2 separate regions of the Homo sapiens genome follow, and region 2 is linked to region 1. Evidence: fine-mapped expression QTL. A gene starts in region 1. The other region holds a variant in brackets. All regions are shown on one strand. Distances are from middle to middle. Region 1 holds the start of SPINT2 (serine peptidase inhibitor, Kunitz type 2). Region 2 holds the start of SNORD152 (small nucleolar RNA, C/D box 152).

Region 1 (9,696 bases):
ACATCTTCATGTCTTTCAGGCAAAGCCAAAAACTACATTTTTACGTTTAAAAAATCCCAATTCTGGAAAAAGTACAAGTCACATAAAGGCTGTGTGAAGCTTCCTGGGAGTGGACAGTTTATAATCTCTGCGTGCTTTCCACTCCAGACGGTAACTGTCCCTAACGCTAGATAGGGGAGCTTTCTCACCTGGCATAAGCTCAGCTTTCCCCCCACCTCTGTCTGCAGAGGTTGGAGTCAGGACACTCTTTGTCCGGCCCGTCCACCTGTCCCTTCCCACCTGCCCTCACTACTCAGAGCGTCACCAACACATCAATCATAGACCACATGATGCTTCTCACAAGAAGCCCCGACCCCTGAGTTAACCCTCACTCTCACACGGTGGGGCCTGCTTTGTCCCCATCTCCCCTCCCCCAACTCCTGGGCCCTCTGGTACTCAGGACTGGTCTTGAGCAAATCTTCCATGTCCTCAATCTCCTCTGAACATTGTTGCCACCCTCTTACCTAATTGGAATCTCCCCTGAGGGCACACCTCCTGGGGCCCTTCCAAGTGGGGAGGTCTCCTTGCTCCTGGGAGCTGCTTCTGGACTGTTCTCCCTCCACCCTCCCCAAAATCCCCAGCTGGGAGACTTCCATTATTAGAGTAAATCATTCACTACCCCGCCTGGCACGTTATCTGCCAACCCAGACAACTACTTCTTCCTTCCCAACTTTAGCTCCGGGCCTGCCACCTCTCCCGCTGCTCTTATGATCATTCTTGGAGATTTCTATATCCAGGTAGATGGTCCTCTGACCTCTAGGTCCCAAGACCTCCACCTGATCTCCTCCCACCCTCGCCCCCCCGCTTCCTCTCAGGGTCACACCTAGACCTGTCTCAGTAACTGCCACCTCTTCAGAACCTCCCTCTCATGCATCTCACTCACTACCCACTGCATCCTATCTGTCTGGTTCATTCCCTTCAGAACCTCAACTCCAACAATCTGCTGGCCCTACCATCTACCTCGGCCCTCCGCCCCCTCATGTTTTCATACAGAATAAATTCCTTGACCAACCCCCATCCTCCCTCCCTCACACATTCTCTGTTCACTCCTCCCTCACCACCACACTCATCCAGCAGCACCTGAGCCACTGCATGGAGCTTCAGCAACACCACACTCCCAGTGGATGACTCGCTTCCGGAGAAAACAGAAGCAATCAGGAAGGAGCGAGGAAAAAAAAGTCAAAACTGCCTTCTGCCTCCGATTAAGCTGTTCAAGCTTTCAAACAAACAGAACTTACGATGAGTGAGGGCATGAGTTCACCCAGTCAGACACTAGTACTTCTGAAAGGTCAGTAGGTCCAGTCGGCAGCAGCAGTCAGGTAGGCCACTCTGAACAGAGAAGGCCTCTGCAGTGAGACCTGGCTTTGTCAATTACTACTACCGAGTGACCTCGGGCAAGGCAAGTAACTTCACCACCGCACCCGGCTGTTTCAAAGGTTAAATGGCACATCCCAGCTCAGAGTAAGCACCAGAGGTAGCAAGAGGCCATGTCCCAGCTCAGAGTAAGCACCAGAGGTAGCAAGAGGCCAGGTAACTGGGAGGTACATCCTAACGTAATTACTTAAACTGAAAAAGTCCAGCAGAGCTGCCAAATTCTGGTTCGAATTGCAAGAATGATCAACGTCTGCATTCCTGACTCCCAGTCACCTACAGCTGAGCCTCTCCCCACCAATTCACTTTTTTCTCCTGCCTAGGGCACAGAGAAATTAACCAGTCCCCAGAAGTTACCACAGGTGATGACTTGGTACACACCTAGCCTGCTCTTTTTTTTTTTTTTGAGACTGAGTCTTGCTGTGTCGCCCAGGCTGCTGTGCAGTGGCTTGATCTCAGCTCACTACAGCCTCCGCCTCTGGGCTTCAAGCGATTCTCCTGCCTCAGCCTCCCGAGTAGCCGGGACTACAGGTGTGCACCACCATGCCCAGCTAATTTTTGTATTTTTGGTAGAGACGGGGTTTCATCATGTTGCCTAGGGTGGTGTTGAACTCCTGGCCTCCAGTGATCTGCCCGCCTTGGCCTCCCAAAGTTCTAGGATTACAGGCATGAGCCACATCACCCGGCCTTCTTTTTTTTTTTTTGAGATGGGAGTTTCACTCTTGTTGCCCAAGCTGGAATGCAGTGGCGCGATCTTGGCTCACTGCAACATCCGCCTCCCGGGTTCAAGCACCAGCACCTGTCTATAAAGCCCTAGGCCATCTGGCTGCAGCCAACCTCTCCCACCTCCCATCCTCCTCCAGTCCTCCCCTCCTTCACGCCTGCTCCAGCCAGGCTGGCTCTGTCTTTTCCCTGAACCCAACCAAGCTTGTTCCAGCTTCAAGGCCTTTGTACTCTATTGCCTGCAACTGGACACTGGTCCCCCAGGTCTCCGTGTGGCTACTGCCTCATTCTTCATGTTAGAGCTCAGATGTCACCCTCCTCACGGAGACGTCCCCCGACCACCTGAGCTAAAGCCGCCCCCAACATCTTACGTCACCCTGTTGGTGTACTTCACCTGGTTCATTTAATTCTCAGTAACTTAATCTCATGGCAAGTGCTTTTTAAACCTTCACTAGCTCTGCCTCTCCCACTGGAATATTAGCTCTGTGAATGCAGGAACCCAGCTAGTCTGAGTTAACTGTTATAACCAGCGCCAGTGCCTGACACGTAGCAGGGCCTCAGTAAGTTTTGCTGAATCAATGAATTCTTGCTTTCAAGAGAGCTCTTTTCAAAACACGCTGGTGCTTGTCTGAAGCAGTTAAGGTTATAACAACACTTGTTCAAAGAGACCTTTCAGACCACACTTCCTTAAGAGTGTAGAAGTTTAAATCACCTTATTCACCACCGACTTCTAAGGGCCAATCCAAAGACCCCAACACCAGCTGCTCAACGCCAATACTCTCTCGAGCCTTAGCAGAGCTTCCTCTTCCCCAAAGCTTGTTTCCTTTCTTGCTCCCTCCTTCTCGGGCACCTACTTTACTGCAACTCAACTACAAAAACTTCAGGGGAGGCTCTTGTCCAATCTCCAAAGAGGCAGGGGTGAGATGGGCTTCTTCCGAGTCTAAAACGGCCACCAGGTCACCCAACCCAACCCCCACCATCTCACAGGCCTGGCCTCTCCCTGAGCTTTGGCCATGGAACTTTCCACCGCCAGGAGAAGGCTGGTCTTCAATTCGGCTCCTCACCCCGTTCTTGCCACAGGAAGGGGCAGTGCCACGCCTTCTTGGTCAATACCCCTTGACTCTTCCTCCACCCGAAGGAAACTCTCCTAACCCTCGCTCCTCCGCCCGTCTTCGCTGTCGAAGGCTCCCAAACCTCATTTCAAGGCTCAATCCTCCAGGGCTGGTTCCACCACACCCGCTGAACGCCATCAAGTAGCCCCCAGTTTCCTCCCCCGCCAGTTCTCCCTGCTCAGACCCCCGTTGACCCCCGAGCCTCTGCCCCCTGCGCCCCGCCTCCAGCCTACCCGCCCGGCCCTCACCGTGGATGCTGCGTTCTCGGTCGGCCGCCAGGACCCCAGAGAGGAGCAGCGATCCCAGCAGGGCGAGAAACGCCCGGCTCCGCCTCAGCCCGCACAGCTGCGCCATGGCCAGCTCAGCCGAGACGCGCAGGCGACGCCACCAGCCGTTGGGGTCTCGCGATCAGGTGCGGGAAGCCCCTCAACGCGCACGCGCAATGGAGCGCCTCGCGTTCAGGTGCCGACGCTCCGGGAGGGTCCGCCAGGTGCCAAAGCCCCCGGAAGTCGCCTTTCCGGACCTTCAGTGTGGGGACGCCCGGCCTTCTCGGCGCGCGATGCCTGGGTCTGCTCCTCACTCGCGCCCTCGCCGCCTGCGACACTCAACGGCCCTCAGCGCGTTCAGAGCCGCGCTACACCTCCCAACGCGCGGAGGTCGCCAGAGCCAATGGCGAACGCCTATTGGAAGCGGCTCCCGAAGGTGGCCGGGCAGGCAGGGGGCGGGGCGCACCTGGCTAGGCAGGGCGAGCTGGGCGCAGGCGCAAAGGGCAGGCACCTGCGCGGCCGCTCCCCGGCCCTGGGCGCACCTGGGCCCGCCCCTGGTGCCGGGGAAGAGGCGGGGCTTGCGCGGGCCTCGCCCCCAACAGAACCTGGCGGGGCGGGGCGGGGCGTCTGCCCGCTGAGCACCTGCCACCCTTCCCTTGGGCTTGGTGACGACGTCGGAGGAGGGCCTTCGCTCTAGGACTGGCCTCAGGGTGGGAGGAGGGGGCGGCAGACACGCGTTTCTTGGAAGCCTGTGGTTTTCTGCCCGCCTCGCCGCAGCTTTCCTGTGAATTCCTTCCTGAATTTCAAAGTTCACTGGGCTCATGCTCCAGGGCTTAATGCTGGGGACCCAGCGGTGGCCATGCCAGACTGGTCCCTGAGTCACCAAACAGGAACGGCCCAGAGTAGTGATAGCGGAAGCTTAGCACAAAGTGATGAAAGCTGTGATGGGGAAGGCCAAGCTTAGGGATCAGAGGCTGGGTCGCTAGAAAACCAGGGCATGATGGGAGCCCAGACAGCTTTCCCATCCAGCCTGAGAGAGGGCCAAGGAGGGCTTCCTGGAGGAGGTGATAGGCCCATGCAAAAACAGCCCCGAGCCCTGGCTCCAAGGTTCTCAGGACAGATATGGAGACAAATACTTAGCACAGGCAGCATCAGAATTGAGAGGAAGGAAGCCCCTGGGGAAACCCAGAGAAGACACCTGACCAAGCCTGGGAGTCAAAGAGGGCTTCCTGGAAGAGGAGTTACGTGAACAGACTCTAGAAAGGGGAATGGAGTGGGGCAGGCACACGAGTAGAGGATAGCCAACAAGGTAATCAACATAAATGCATTATTATTGAAAACACTTTTAGATTATTTCTTTTTTTTTTTTTTTTTGAGATGGAAGTTTTGCTCTTGTTGCCCAGGCTGGAGTGCAATGGAGTGATCTTGGCTCACTGCAGCCTTGACCTCCTGGGCTCAAGGGATCCTCCCACCTCAGCCTCCCAAGTAGCTGGGACTACAGATGTGAGCCACCACATCCAGCTAATTTTTAAATTTTTTGTGGAGACAGGGGACTTGCTATGTTGCCCAGGCTGGTCTCAAACTCCTGGCTTCAAGGGATCCTCCTGTCTCATCCTTCCAAAAGTGTTGTATTACAGGCGTGAACCACCACACCTGGCCTGAAAACACTTTGACAGTGCTATACAGAAAAGGAATCAGGGGCTGGGATGGAAAATAACAAGAGATCTTTTGAATGGGGTGGCGGAGGAAGGGCTTTGTGAGGGGTGGCTTTGATAATGAACTCTGAAGGATGATAAAGGCCAAGGGACAAACATTCCAAGAATCAGGAATGGCACATGCGGAGGCCTTCAGGCAGGAAAGAGAATAGTGTGTTCAGGAGCCAGGGCCACTCCCACTCTTCAGCCTCCCTCCTAGCATAATAATACATGAAAAGCCGTAACTGAGTTATCAAAATGGTATTTACCTTAAACAATGGAAGTCTAACCTTGCAATGAGATCATGGGACTCAAGGTGGAATCTGAATGTGAGGCCAAAGGTCTCCCCCAGCACTTGAATCTCCCACTGCCACTCAGGCCTACTAAACCTAGGCTTGAGCATGAAAACAGAGAAGTATGTGCTGAGCCGTCAAGGCTTGGAAGAAGGTATAGGCCTCTTCTTTCTTTATTTTATTTTATTTTGAGACAGAGTTTCACCTGTTGCCCAGGCTGGAGTGCAATGCTGTGATCTCAGCTCACTGCAACCTCCACCTCCTGGATTCAAGCAATTCTCCTGCCTCAGCCTCCTGAGTAGCTGGGATTACAGGCACCACCCGCCACCACGCCCAGCTAATTTTTGTATTTTTTGTAGAGATGGAGTTTCACCATGTTGGCCAGGCTGGTCTCGAACTTCTGACCTCACGATCCGCCCACCTTGACCTCCCAAAGTGCTGGGATTACAGGCGTGAGCCACTGCATCTGTCCAGTTTTGAACTTTAAACACAAAAACTCAAAAGGAGGGCTGAGCGCAGTGGCTCATGCCTGTAATCCCAGCACTTTGGGAGGCCAAGGCGGGTGGATCACGAGGTCAGCAGATCAAGACCATCTTGGCTAACACGGTGAAAAAATCAAAAAGATTAGCCGGGCGTGGTGGCGGGAGCATGTAGTCCCAGCTACTCGGGAGGCTGAGGCAGGAGAATCTCTTGAACCCGGCAGGCGGGGTTTGCAGTGAGCCAATATTGTGCCACTGTACTCCAGCCTGAGCAACAGCGCGAGAGTCGTTCTCAAAAAAAAAAAAAAAAAAAAGAGGCCGGGCTCACACGCCTGTAATCCCCAGCACTTTGGGAGGCCTGGGCATCTCCATATCTGTCCTGAGAAACATTCCAAGCATCAACATTCCTGATGCTTGGAATGTTTGTCCCTTGGCCTTTATCATCCTTCAGAGTTCATTAAAAAGAGGTGGCTCACGCCTGTAATCCCCAGCACTTTGGGAGGCCGAGGTGGGCGGATCACGAGGTCAGGAATTTGAGACCAGCCTGGCCAACATAGTGAAACCCTGTCTCTACTAGAAATACAAAAATTAGCCGGGCGTGGTGGCGCGCGCCTGTAGTCCCAGCCACTGGAGAGGCTGAGGCAGGAGAATCGCTTGAACCCGGGAGGTGGAGGCTGCGGCGAGCCGAGATCGCCCCACTGCACACCAGCCCGGGCGACAGTGTGAGACTTCGTCTCAAAAAAAAAAAAAAAAAAAAGAAGGGCCGGGTGCGGTGGCTTATGCCTGTAATCTCAGCATTTTAGAAGGCTGAGGTGGGCGGATCACGAGGTCAGCAGATGGAGACCATCTGGGCTAACACGGTGAAACCCCGTCTCTACTGAAAAAAAGTACAAAAGACTAGCCGGGCGTGGTGGTGGGCGCATGTAGTCCCAGCTACTTGGGAGGCTGAGGCAGGAGAATCGCTTGAACCTGGGAGGTGGAGTTTGCAGTGAGCCGACATTGCGCCACTGCACTCCAGCCTGAGCGACGGCGCGAGACTCGTTCTCAAAAAAAAAAAAAAAAAAAAAAAAAAAGAGGCCGGGCGCGGTGGCGGGCGCCTGTAGTCCCAGCTACTCGGGAGGCTGAGGCAGGAGAATAGCTTGAATCCGGGAGGCGGAGGTTGCAGTGAGCTGAGACTGCACCACTGCCCTCCAGCCTGGGTGACAGAGCGAGACTCTGTCTCAAAAAAAAAAAAAAAAAAAAAAAAAAAAACACCAAAAAAAAAACCTTGACAGTAGGCCAGGCGTGGTTGGCTCACACCTGTAATCTCAGCACTTTGGGAGGCCGAGGCGAGCGGATCACCTGAGGTCGGGAGTTCAAGACCATCCTGACCAACATGGAGAAATCCTGTCTGCTAAAAATACAAAATTAGTCGGGCGTGGTGGCGGATGCCTGTAATCCGCGCTACTCAGGAGGCTGAGGCAGGAGAATCGCTTGAACCTGGGAGGTGGAGGTTGCAGTGAGCTGAGATAGTGCCATTGTACTCCAGCCTGGGCAACAAGAGCGAAACTCCGTCTCAAAAAATGAAACAAAAACAAAACAAAAAAAAAACCGACAGTAATTGCATCAATTGTTTTTTTCCCCCTTTTTTATATTGCATCAATTGTTTAGAAAGCAGACCACCAAAAGGTTTTTGTTTCTGTTTCTTCCCTGGGGAGGACTATTTTATCATTGACACTGTTTAGAAATGTCACTGCAAAGTAAAATAAAAATTAGACCAACTTTTGGTCAGTTTTTTTGAAATGGAGTCTCACTCTGTCTGTCGCCTAGGCTGCAGTGCAATGGCACGATCTTGGCTCATCGCAACCTCCACCTCCCGGGTTCAAGCGATTCTCCTGCCTCAGTCTCCCAAGTAGCTGGGATTACAGGCTTGTACCACCACACCCGGCTAATTTTTGTATTTTTATGGAGATGGGGTTTCACCATGTTGGCCAGGCAGGTCTTGAACTCCTGACCTCAGGTGATCTGCCTGCCTTGGCCTCCCAAAGTGCTGGGATTACAGGCATGAGCCACCATGCCCGGCCTTGGTCAGCTTTTTATTTTTAAATTCTCTACAGACAGTGCACCCTCTTTTTGCCTGTACCCAAAGTGGACCAGTCCTGTCCCCCTGCCTTTAGTATGCTACTAGTTGGGAAACAGACAATAATTTTTTTTTTCTGTCACTGCACAGAACAGAAAATATGACATTTTTCTTTTTGAGACAGGGTCTCACTCCATCACCCAGGCTGGAGTGCAGTGGTGCAATCACAGTTCACTGCGTCCTCCATCTCCTGGACTCAAGTGATCCTCCCAACTCAGCCTCCAGAGTAACTGGGACTACAAGCATGTACTATTGCACCTGGCTTTTTTTTTTTTTTTTTTTTTTTGTAGCGACAGGGTCTCACTATGTTGCCCAAGCTGATCTTGAACTCCTGGATGTAATTGCTCCTCCTGCCTCAGCATCCTATAGTGCTGAGATTACAGGTGTGAGCCACCACGCCTGGCATGGACAATACATTAAATGAGTACATTATATATAATGTTAGAGGCCAGGCATGGTGGCTCATGCCTGTAATTCCAGCACTTTGGGAGGTCAAGACGGGCAGATCGTCTGAGGTCAGGAGTTCGAGACCAGCCTGACCAACATGGTGAAACCCCATCTCTACTGAAAATATAAAAAGTAAGCGGACACAGTGGTGTATAACTGTAGTCCCAGCTACTCAGGAGGCTGAAGCAGGAGAATCTCTTGAACCCAGGAGGCAGAGGTTGCAGTGAGCCATGATCACAATACTATACTCCAGCCTGAGGTGACTCCAACTCAAAAAAAAAAAAAAAAAAAAAAAAAAAAAAAAAAAAATATATATATATATATATATATATATAATGTTAGAAAGTGGTAAGTGTTATGTATCAAACAGAGCTGGATGAGGGGCACGAGAGTTGCAGTGTGAAATAGCGTGGCCAGGGAAGACCTCACTGAACAGTGACATTGGAGGGAGGTGAAGGAGTGAGCCCTGATGATATTCTAGGGAAGAACCTTCCTGGCAGAGGGAACTGCGAGTGAAAGGTGCTGGTGCTGAAATGGGACTGTCCCTGGCAGAGATGGGACTGCTAAACCAGAGTTTGGCCTTTAGACTGAAGGTCATGGGTAGCTATGGATAGTTGTTTTTTATTTTTGTTTTTTTAGAGATGGGGTCTTTCTCTGTCGCCCAGGCTGGAGTGTGATGGCACGATCTCAGCTCACTGCAGCCTCCGCCTCCCAGGTTCAAGCAATTCTCCCACCTCAGCCTCCTGAGTAGCTGGGATTACAGGGGTGCACCACCATGCTTGGCTAATTTTTTTTGCATTTTTAGTAGAGACGGGTTCACCATGTTGGTCAGGCTGGTCTCAAACTCCTGACCTCAGATAATCCACTCACCTCAGCCTCCCAAAGTGCTGGGATTACAGACGTGAACCATGGCGCCTGGCCTGTTTTTAATTTTGAAATAAAACAGCTTTATTGAAGCCGGGCACGGTGGCTCACGCCTGTAATCCCAGCACTTTGGGAGGCCTAGGCAGGTGGATTACCTGAGGTCAGGAGTTCAAGACCAGCCTGGCCAACATGGTGAAACCCCGTTTCTACTAAAAATACAAAAATTAGCCAGGCGTGGTGGCACACCCCTGTAATCCCAGCTACTCGGGAGGCTGAGGCAGGAGAATTG
Region 2 (9,696 bases), 100 kb after region 1:
CCCAAAGTGCTGGGTTTATAGGCGTGAGCCACCGTGCCCGGCCTGGGAGCGCACACGTATTCATTTGTCTCAGTGATTATCTGATTCTCATCTGCTTCCCTCATTTGACAGTGGGCGGTGGGGAGGCCTCATCCAAATGTGCTCCTGATTTCTCTCAGCTCCCAGCACAGTGTCTGGGACCGAGCAAATCCCTAAGAAATACTTATGAATGGAGTGAATGAATAAATGAATGAAAGAGCCATTCAAAAGAGTCCACATGTTCAAAAGATTAAGAGGTACTCGTCACCAGGTGTGGTAGCTCATGCCTGTAATCCCAGCATTTTGAGAGGCCGAGATGGGAGCATCGCTTGAGCCCAGGAGTTCGAGACCAACCTTGGCAACACAGTGAGACCCCTTCTCTACTAACAAACTTAAAAAATTAGCTGGGCATGGGGGCACACACCTGTAGTCTCAGCTACTTAGGGGGCTGAGGTGGGAGGAACACTTGAGCTGAGGAGTTCGAGGCTATCGTGAGCTATGGTCGTACTACTGCACCCCAGCCTGGGCAATAGAGCAGGACCCTGTTTCTAAAAAACAAACAGCCACTTGTCTAGGGAGATGAACTGAGAGGTCTAAAACACTCAGACAGTGTCTCTCTCTGTCTGTCTCCTCTTTCCTCCTTCAGCCCTTCTCCTGGCTCTTTGACTCAAGGAGACCCTTGGATCACAGTGTGCCCGGGGAAGTGCTGACACTACAATCACTCAAACACAGTGGTTTTCAAATATCTGTCAGAGAACACTGTAAGCCATGAAATCATCTGAGTGGGGATTGATCAGCATTAAAAGTTTTTAAATAGAGTAGACTGGATCAAAGTATATCACACACAGGTTAAGAATTATTTTGGAAACCACTGCTTCACCTTTTTTTTTTTTTTTTTGAGATGGAATCTCGCTCTGTTGCCAGGCTGGAGTGCAGTGGCATGATCTTGGCTCACTGCAACCTCTGCCTCCCAGATTCAAGCGATTCTCCTGCCTCAGCCTCCCGAGTATCTGGGACTACAGGTGCCCACCACCACGCCCAGCTAATTTTTGTATTTTCAGTAGAGATGGGGTTTCACCATGTTGGCCAGGACGGTCTCGAGCTCTTGACCTTGTGATCCGCTTGCCTTGGCCTCCCAAAGTGCTGGGATTACAGGCGTGAGCCACTGCTCAAAGCCACCTTTTTTTTTTTTTAACATAGATATTTCTGTATAGATGGACACAATTCTACTGTGGACTGTGGTCAGAAGTCTGAGTTGGCTGCCTGAGTGTGGGTGTCCTGTGTGGAGAGAGGCTGGGGTTTGAGGACTGGAAAAGGCTTTAGGGCGCCACAGGAGAGGAAGATCCCTGCGCCAACCAGGTTCTGAGCCCTGATGGCTATCGGGGACTCAGGCTAGCCCACCCCAGGCATGGTCAGGAAGGGATGTGGGGCTGTGGACTCAGGGGCTGGCACTGGACACTACAGCACAGCAAGCCCTGCTGGGGTCACAGAACCCTAAGGGGGTCCAAGGATGAGGCTGAGCTCTGTGTCTGTGTAGAATACTCTTTCCATCTCTGTGCCCTTTTCTGGAAGGTGGCTCATTGCCTCCATCCGAACGTCAGTGTGTGTGGTCGGGACTCTAGGCTGCTGGCTCGCCAATTCCTGCTTTTCTTTTCTTTTCTTTTTTTTTTTTTTGAGACAGAGTCTTGCTCTGTCGCCTGGGTGGAGTGCAGTGGCACGATCTCGGCTCACTGCAACCTCTGCCTCCTGGGTTCAAGCGATTCTCCTGCCTCAGCCTCCCAAGTAGCTGGGACTACAGGCGCCCACTACCATGCCTGGCTAATTTTTTTTTGTATTTAAGTAGAGACGGGGTTTCACCATGTTGGCCAGGACAGTCTGGATCTCCTGACCTCATGATCCACCCGCCTTGGCCTCCCAAAGTGCTGGGATTACAGGTATGAGCCACCGTTTCCAGCCAATGCCTACTCTTTCTCTCTTACTCCCGTCTGCCTCTCTACCAGTGGCTCTCAAAGTGTGGTCCTGGGACCAGCAGCATCAGCATTTACTGAGAACTTAATGCATATTCTCAGCCGGGCATGGTGGCTCACACCTGTGATCCCAGCAATTTGGGAGGCTGAGGTGGGAGGATCCCTTTAGGTCAGGAGTTTGAGACCAGCCTGGCCGACATGGTGAAACCCTGTCTCTACTAAAAATACAAAAATTAGTTGGGCATGGTGGTGGGCACCTGTAATCTCAGCTACTCGGGAGGCCGAGGCAGGAGAATCACTTGAACCTGGGAGGTAGAGGGTGCAGTGAGCCTGAGACCGCACCACTGCACTCCGGCCTGGTGAATAGAACGAAACTCCGTCTAAAAAACAAACAAAAAAACACCAATGCACGTTCTCAGGTCTCCCGCTCCGACCTATTGAATCAGAAACTCTGGGTGGGGGCCAGCAGCTGGGCTGAACAAGCCTTTGAGGGCTTCTGTGGGGACCATCGCCGTATACGGTAGAGCCTGGAAGACCAAACTACAACTTTCCAGACCTCCTTGTAGCTGGGATGGCCCCGTGATGCCAGCTGCTGAAAGGGGTTCTGGGAAAGTGTTTGCTTTCTCCATAGGAAGGGAAAGGTGCTCAGAGGCTTCCAACTTTCCCCTCTTCTCTGTCCCCAACTGCCACTCACCAGGCAGCACAGCTCCATCTCAAGGCAAGTGAGACATGAGCCAGCATGGTAAAGATGCCGAGCAGGGAGACACAGAGTGCCAATCCTTGAGGCTCTCCACAAGCCACAGCACTAGCCTGGCTCTGCCTTCTCTGGACTTCATGTTAGGGGACTGTTTGTTACACCTCTATTTGTTTAAGCCACAGAGGGTCAGGTTTCCTATTGCCTCCAGCCAAATACACTCTATCAGATACAGTCTGTGACCCTTTAGAAAGCATAAAAACTTTTGGTATCAGCAGAGAGCAAAGAAAAAAGAGACAGAGGGTCAGAGAGAACCAGAGACAGATGAAAACAGAGACAGAAGGCCAGGGGTTTCTTTCCCTCCACCTGGGGTCCCTGAATGCTGATGGATGGGCAATAAGGCAGAGATCCACGAGCTCCTCAATTCTGTCAGCAAACCAATGACTAGGCGCATTCATCCGTGAGTGTGTTTCTGGGGAGGAGAACCCCACCATCAGGACCGTAAAAGTAGAACTGGCGAAGTGGAAGGTGGTTAGAACCCAGACTAGGTGCAACAGCTTACCTGGGCTGCCTCGGTGGGTCTCGGCTGCCCCCCGCCAGTCCCGTGGGGGTGCTGGAGCCGGAGGAGTACAGCTTCGGTCGGTAGCCCTTGCTTTGGCCGGCAACTGCGGGGGCAGGGGAGACCTCCCGCCGCCTGTCTGCGTGGTGGGACCTCCCAGCGGCCTCGCGACCCCCGCCACAAAGGCCCATACTTCCAGGGGGCTTGTGTGGCTTGGCGGGCCGTGGAGCCTTGGCCAGGGACATGCAGCTAGGGCTGGAGGTGTAGAGGGTGGTGTCGATGCCGCTGTCACTAGAGCCACCCTTGGAGAGGGGGTCTTGCTCTGGCTCCAGGGGGTCCAGGGGGTCGAACCAGCGGTCGTCGCTGTGGCTGCTGGATGCGTTGCTGGAGAGGGTGTTGCTGCTGGAATGACTTGAGTATTGAGGTTCTCCCTGAGAGGCAAGAGAAGCGTGTCATTCCCAGACTCCAGGGCAGGGGCGCATCTTCCCTTGCCGGGTCCTCCCTCTGCCTGGGCCTGAACCCTGGGACCAGACAGCTTCAAATCCTGGCTTCTCATCTACTGGCCGTGTTACCTTGGGCAAGTGATTTACCTTCCCTCAGCCTCAGTTTCCACATCTGTAAAATGGAGGGTGATAGTAAGCCTGCCTCATGGGGCTGCTCAGAGGAACAAATGACATCAGGCACAGAACATGCTTCCCACATCTCAGACTCAGCGAATCTAAGACTGAGTTCGGCAGCGTCTTCCTCATCTCAATGACGCCGGCCATGCTTTCAGCTGCCCCTGCCAAGAGCCGTGGACTCACCTTGACCCCGCTTTTGCTCTCACTCATGTCCAGCCCACTAGCAAACCCTGCTGCCCGCGTCCTCAACACAGATCCGGGACCTGTCACTTCCTGCTCCACGGCTCCGCGTGGTCCTGTCCATGCCTGTCCTGTCCTCCCCCTGGGGCCAGTGCAGCAGCCTCCTCCCTGGTCTCTCTGCACCCTCATCCCCCTGTTTATTCCCCACACGCAGCCAGCAGAAGGCTGAGAACACCTGAGTTAGATGATGACCCCCACCTGTGGCTCCATCTTACTCCAGGCACAAGTGAGAGTTCCCAGCATGGCCCATGGGGCTTTGATGCTTGGGTCCCGGTCTCCAACTTCATCTCCCCTCCCTCCCGATCACGTTGCTGTGGCCATGGTGGCCCCCTTGCTATTCTCGGAACATACTGGGCACTCCCCGTCAGGGCCTCTGCGCCTGCTGCTCCCTCTGCCTGCAATACTCTTCCCTGAGAGATCTTCGTGGGCCTCCCCCTTCCTTCACTCAAGGTTTCCGCTCAAAGGTCACCCCCTCAAAGGCCCTCTCTGACCACATCATCCTTGAGCTGCAGTGCTTGTCACTCTCTCCCCTGGACTGTTTTTTTTTTTTTTTTTTTTTTGAGATAGAGTCTCACTCTGTCGCTCAGGCTGGAGTGCAGTGGTGCAATCTTGGCTTACTGCAGCCTCTGCCTCCTGGGTTCAAGCAATTCTTGTGCCTCAGCCTCCCAAGGAGCTGGGATTATAGGTTCCTGCCACCACGCCTGGCTAATTTTTGTATTTTTAGTAGAGACGGGGTTTTACTAGGTTGCCCAGGCTGGTCTCGAACTCCTGACTGCAGGTGATCCGTCCGCCTTGGCCTCCTAAAGCACTGGGATTATAGGCGTGAGCCACCGCGCCCAGCCCGCACTTTTTCTTATACAACAGATCTGTTTATCTGCTTACTGCTTGCTGCCCCAAATGGGAAGTCAGCTTCCTGAGGACAGGGCTGGTCTGTCCTCTTCATCATCATGGTCCCAATGCCTGGAGTGTTGTAAGCGCTTGTCAAACACCCACTGAACGAATGGATACAAAGAGATTGCCAAGAGCCCCTGCAAACCATCTCCTCCTCCTGGACACACAGGACTACATCCCCAGCCTTCCTGGGCCATGCAAG[A/T]CTACATTTCCCAGCCTCCCTTGCAGCTAGGTGTGGCCACGTGATGGAATGGAAGCGATTCATGCCATTTCCAGGCCTGGGCTAAAAAACACCTCCCATGTGATCTTTTCTCCCACTCACCTCCACTGCTGGAAAGACGCAGGGACCCAGCAGAGGGCTTGGAACCTCTGAGGGACAGCAGAGCCACAAGAGGGAGGGAGCCTGGGCTCTGAATCACCACGTGAATGGCGGGTAGATGCTCACTGAATACCTGCACTGCGCTGTTACAGGAGAGGGAAATCCACTTCCACTGTATGAAGTCACTGAGATTCGGGGCTGTCTGTTACAGCAGCTGATTTACCATGACTGATGGAACAATGAGGAAACTGCGGCTCGAGGAGGTAAAGGGATTTGCCCTAGATGACCTGGCTGATGAGGGCTGGAGCCAGAATGTGAACCTGGTTGGTTCCAACTCAGACCAAGTATTCAACCCCTCTGCTGAGTGGAAGGTGGCAGAGGTTGAGGATGTGCTCAAGTGTGAAGCTCAGAGGCCACACCCAGGCAGGCCTGGCTCCCCCGGTAGGGCAGGGTGGGGCCCAGACTCACTTTGGAATGCCTGTTGGGGGAATCTTTGCCTGCTGCATCCTGCCTGGACGGGTGCTTGTTCCCGCTGCTTCCGGCTATGGCTGAGAGCCTGGCCTGGGCAGGCACATGCCACAAAGGCTCTGTAGGAAAACAGGAGACACACCAGTGGTTAGGAGTGACTCAGGCCAGGGCCTGAAGAATCTGGACCCTTTGCCAGACTGTCTGCTCACCCACGGCATGACCCCATCAATTTACACCTTGGAGTGCAACACTCAGTAACAGAGAATACATCTCAGCACATACTATGTGCCAGACACCGTTCTGAGGGCCTCACTGAAGCCGTGCAATATCCCATTTCCCTCTCTCCCTGTCACCCAGGCTAAAGTGCAATGGAATGATCATAGCTCACTGTAACCTTGAACTCCTGGGTTGAAGCCATCCTCCCGCCTCAGCCTCCCAAGTAGCTAGGACTACAGGTGTGCATCACCATGCTTGGCTAATTTTTTTTTTTTTTTTGAGGTCTTGCTACAGCATCCAGGGTGGTCTTGAACTCCTGGCCTCAAGTGATCCTCCTGCCTCAGCTTCCCAAAGTGCTGGGATGATAGGCGTGAGCCACCATGCCTAGCCTCCTTTACCCATTTATCTATGAGCTTGACTGTCTTTTTTGAGATGGGGTCTCGCTCTGTCGCTCAGGCTGGAGTGCAGTGGTATGATCTCAGCTCACTGCACCCTCCACTGCCCAGGGTTCAAGTGATTCTCCTGTCTCAGCCTCTCAAGCAGCTGGGATTACAGGTGTGGCACCACCATGCCCAGCTAATTGTTTTGTATTTTTAGTGGAGACAGGGTTTCACCATATTGGCCAGGCTGGTCTCGAACTCCTGACCTCGTGATCCACCTGCCTCGGCCTCCCAAAGTGCTGGGATTACAGGTGTGAGCTACCGCACCCGGCCCAAACTATCTTTTATCTTATTGGTTAGTAGAGTTCTTTACATATGCAAGGTAGCAATCCTTTGTTGGTTGTATGTACATAGTTTTTTTTTTTTTTTTTTTTTGAGACGGAGTCTTGCTCTGTCACCCAGGCTAGAGCGCAGTGGTGTGATCTCAGCTCACTGCAACCTCTGCCTCCCAGGTCAAGTGATTCTCCTGCCTCAGCCTCCTGAGTAGCTGGGATTACAGGCACTGGCCACCACGCCCGGCTAATTTTTGTATTTTTAGTAGAGACGGGGTTTCACCATCTTGGCCAGGCTGGTCTCGAACTCCTGACCTCGTGATCCACCCATCTCAGCCTCCCAAAGTGCTGGGATTACAGATGTGAGCCACCGTGCCCGGCCCACAACTTTTTTAAAAAACAAAAATGGAATAATAATAAACACTGTCCTACAACTTAATTTTTCACTTTGTAATATGTCTATACTTGCTTTTCTCTTTATATCTTCACCATAGGTCTTCACATAATTGAATGTGATGTTACCCTAATAGTATTGCACTAAGTGAATGTACATCAATGACCTGCCAGTTTCCTACTGATGGATATTTAGGTTATCTTGAACAGTCTTCCCTCTACAGTGGCCTTCCCTCTACATGCGACTTTGAGCAAGCGTGGGATTGTGTGTGGGACAGAGAGTGCTACTGGTGGAATTGCTGGTCCAAAGGTGAAGCGGGTTTAAGAGTAGTGGCTGCTGTGGATGTCAGGCCTGGTGCGGTGGCTCACGCCTGTAATCCCAGCACTTTGGGAGGCCGAGGCGGGCAGAGCACGAGGTCAAGAGTTGAGACCATCCTGTCCAACATGGTGAAACCCCGTCTCTACTAAAAAAAATACAAAAAATAGCTGGGTGTGGTGGTGCACGCCTGTAGTCCCAGCTACTTGGGAGGCTGAGGCAGAAGAATCGCTTGGACCTGGGAGGAGGAGGCTGCAGTGAGCCGAGATCGCACCCCTGCACTCCAGCCTGGAGACTAAGCGAGACTCCGTCTCAAAAAAAAAAAAAAGAGTAGCAGCTGCTCTGGATGTCAACTGGTTTAACCTCTCCAGCCTAGTCAGTATGCCTGGACCAAGTATCTTGCTGACCTTAAAAAAAAATTGGCCAGGTGCGGTGGCTCATGCCTGTAATCCCAGCACTTTGGGAGGCCAAGATGGGGGGATCATTTGAGGTCAGGAGTTCAGGACCAGCCTGACCAACATGGTGAAACCCTGTCTCTCCTAAAAATACAAAAAAATTAGCTGGGTGTGATGGCACATGCCTGTAGTCCCAGCTACTCGGGAGGCTGAGGTAGGAGAATTGCTTGAACCTGGGAGGTGGAGGCTGCAGTGAGCCGAGATCGCGCCATTACACTCCATCCTGGGCAACAGAGCAATACTCCGTCTCAAAAAAATAAATAAAAAATAAAATAAATAAAGACATACATAAAAAGTGACCAACCCCAGTGGAGGGCATTTAGATATTATCTATGGAAATTACAAATGCACTAACTGAGGAGCTGAACGCCGGTGATTTAACCCCAAAGCTGACTTTTGATCACTATGGTATTCAAGATCATTAACATAATGATAATTCCCATTAAGCGTGTGTTCTGTGTCAGGCGCTATGGTAAGCACTCTGCATACATTACCCTGCTGCGTCCTCCCAGTACCACTGTGAAGTGGGTATCAGGAGCATCTCCGATAGATGTGGAACAAGACTCGGAGAGGTTAAGCAGCTGGTCCAAGGTCGCACAGTGGGAAAGGGCCAGGCAGGACGTGTGGCTCGGATTGGCCTAGTTTAGCACCTGTGCTGTCAAGCCCTGCCTCCTCCCTTGGCTTCACCAACAACGGCAATGCTGGCAGTGGTGGAGAGTGAGTGCCCGATGGGCAGGAGCTCTTGTTCTCCTAATGATGGGCCGTGGGCTTGGCCGGCATTATCTCACTGGACCCCCCACAAACTGCCCTGGAAGGAGAGACACCTAGGATGTCCACTACAGGAGTGGGACCTGAGGCTGAGGGGGAGGAGGTCACTGCTGAGGCCACACACCAAGCATACGCCCAACTCAGAACTGCCCACCAGGCCTGTGGGACCCCGAGCTTGCAATCACACTGCCACCTCCGGTGCAAGCCCAGGGTACTCTTGGGCCCATGTTCCTGCTGGGGAAGGTGGCCCGGGTGACCAGGCAGGGCACTCAGGGCCACTGCAGAGAATGGCCTGGCTGGATGTGGTCTAGTCTCAGTTGAGGGTGTCACCGCGTGTGTGGCTTTCACTGGGGAACCATGGATGCGAGAAAGTGGGGAGGCTGGCCTCTTTGTCCACCTGCTCTGCCTCCATTGATGGTTTTCCTCTTTGGGGCATTTTTATACACCCAGAAGGTGCTGGCTCCCCGGGAGGTGGGCAGTCACTCTGGGAGACCACATTTCTACAGAGCGAAGCCCATGGCAGTCACATCCGGCCTCAAAAACCACAGACAACGGACAACTCCAGTGCTCTACCTCTGGGCTGACCTCTGCCCCTGACTTGACACTTGAACTCGGCTGCCCTGCAGCACCTCCACTTGGGTATCTATCAGGCACCTCTCACTGAACATGGCCAAGGCCAAGCCAAGGGCTGTACCTTCCCCCAAACCTGCATCTCCCACAGTTTTCCTGCTCAGTTCATGGCTTCTCCTTTCAGCTGCTGTGGCCAAACCCCCTGTGGCATCCTTGACTTCTCTCATGCCCACAACTAGGCATCATCAAGAAATTTGGTTAACGCTGCCTTTAAAATACTATATCCAGAATCGTGCATCTCCGCCTACCTCTGTCCCCACCTGGTCCTGCTCCCACCCCACCTGACAGTAATCTGTAGCCAGGGGCTCCTGGGAACACCCGAGTCAGATCCTGCCCCTCCTCTGCACAGAAGACTGAGACCTGCGGCTCCTGTCCCACTCTCAGTACAGGACAACCGCCTCCCCGTGGCCCAAGAGGCTCCACATACTCT

Evidence for each region. PIP is the estimated chance that this variant, and not a neighbour inherited with it, causes the effect.
Region 2: its variant is the best candidate, but not a certain one, in a credible set for the expression of SPINT2 in whole blood (INTERVAL, PIP 0.68).

Annotation. Positions count from the first base shown.
Region 1 is chr19:38,258,796-38,268,491 of GRCh38, reverse strand. SPINT2 (serine peptidase inhibitor, Kunitz type 2) reads right to left here and starts at 3,919. Exons shown (of 7, transcript NM_021102.4): 1 at 3,494-3,919. The coding sequence starts at 3,599. RefSeq lists a silencer at 3,895-4,214 and enhancers at 4,371-5,288, 5,429-6,365, 6,366-7,303.
Region 2 is chr19:38,158,452-38,168,147 of GRCh38, reverse strand. SIPA1L3 (signal induced proliferation associated 1 like 3) reads right to left here. Exons shown (of 22, transcript NM_015073.3): 14 at 5,777-5,895; 15 at 3,242-3,669. SNORD152 (small nucleolar RNA, C/D box 152) reads right to left here and starts at 5,052; the gene lies at 4,999-5,052. RefSeq lists a silencer at 1,648-1,850. The variant A/T (reference allele first, on the strand shown) is at 5,192.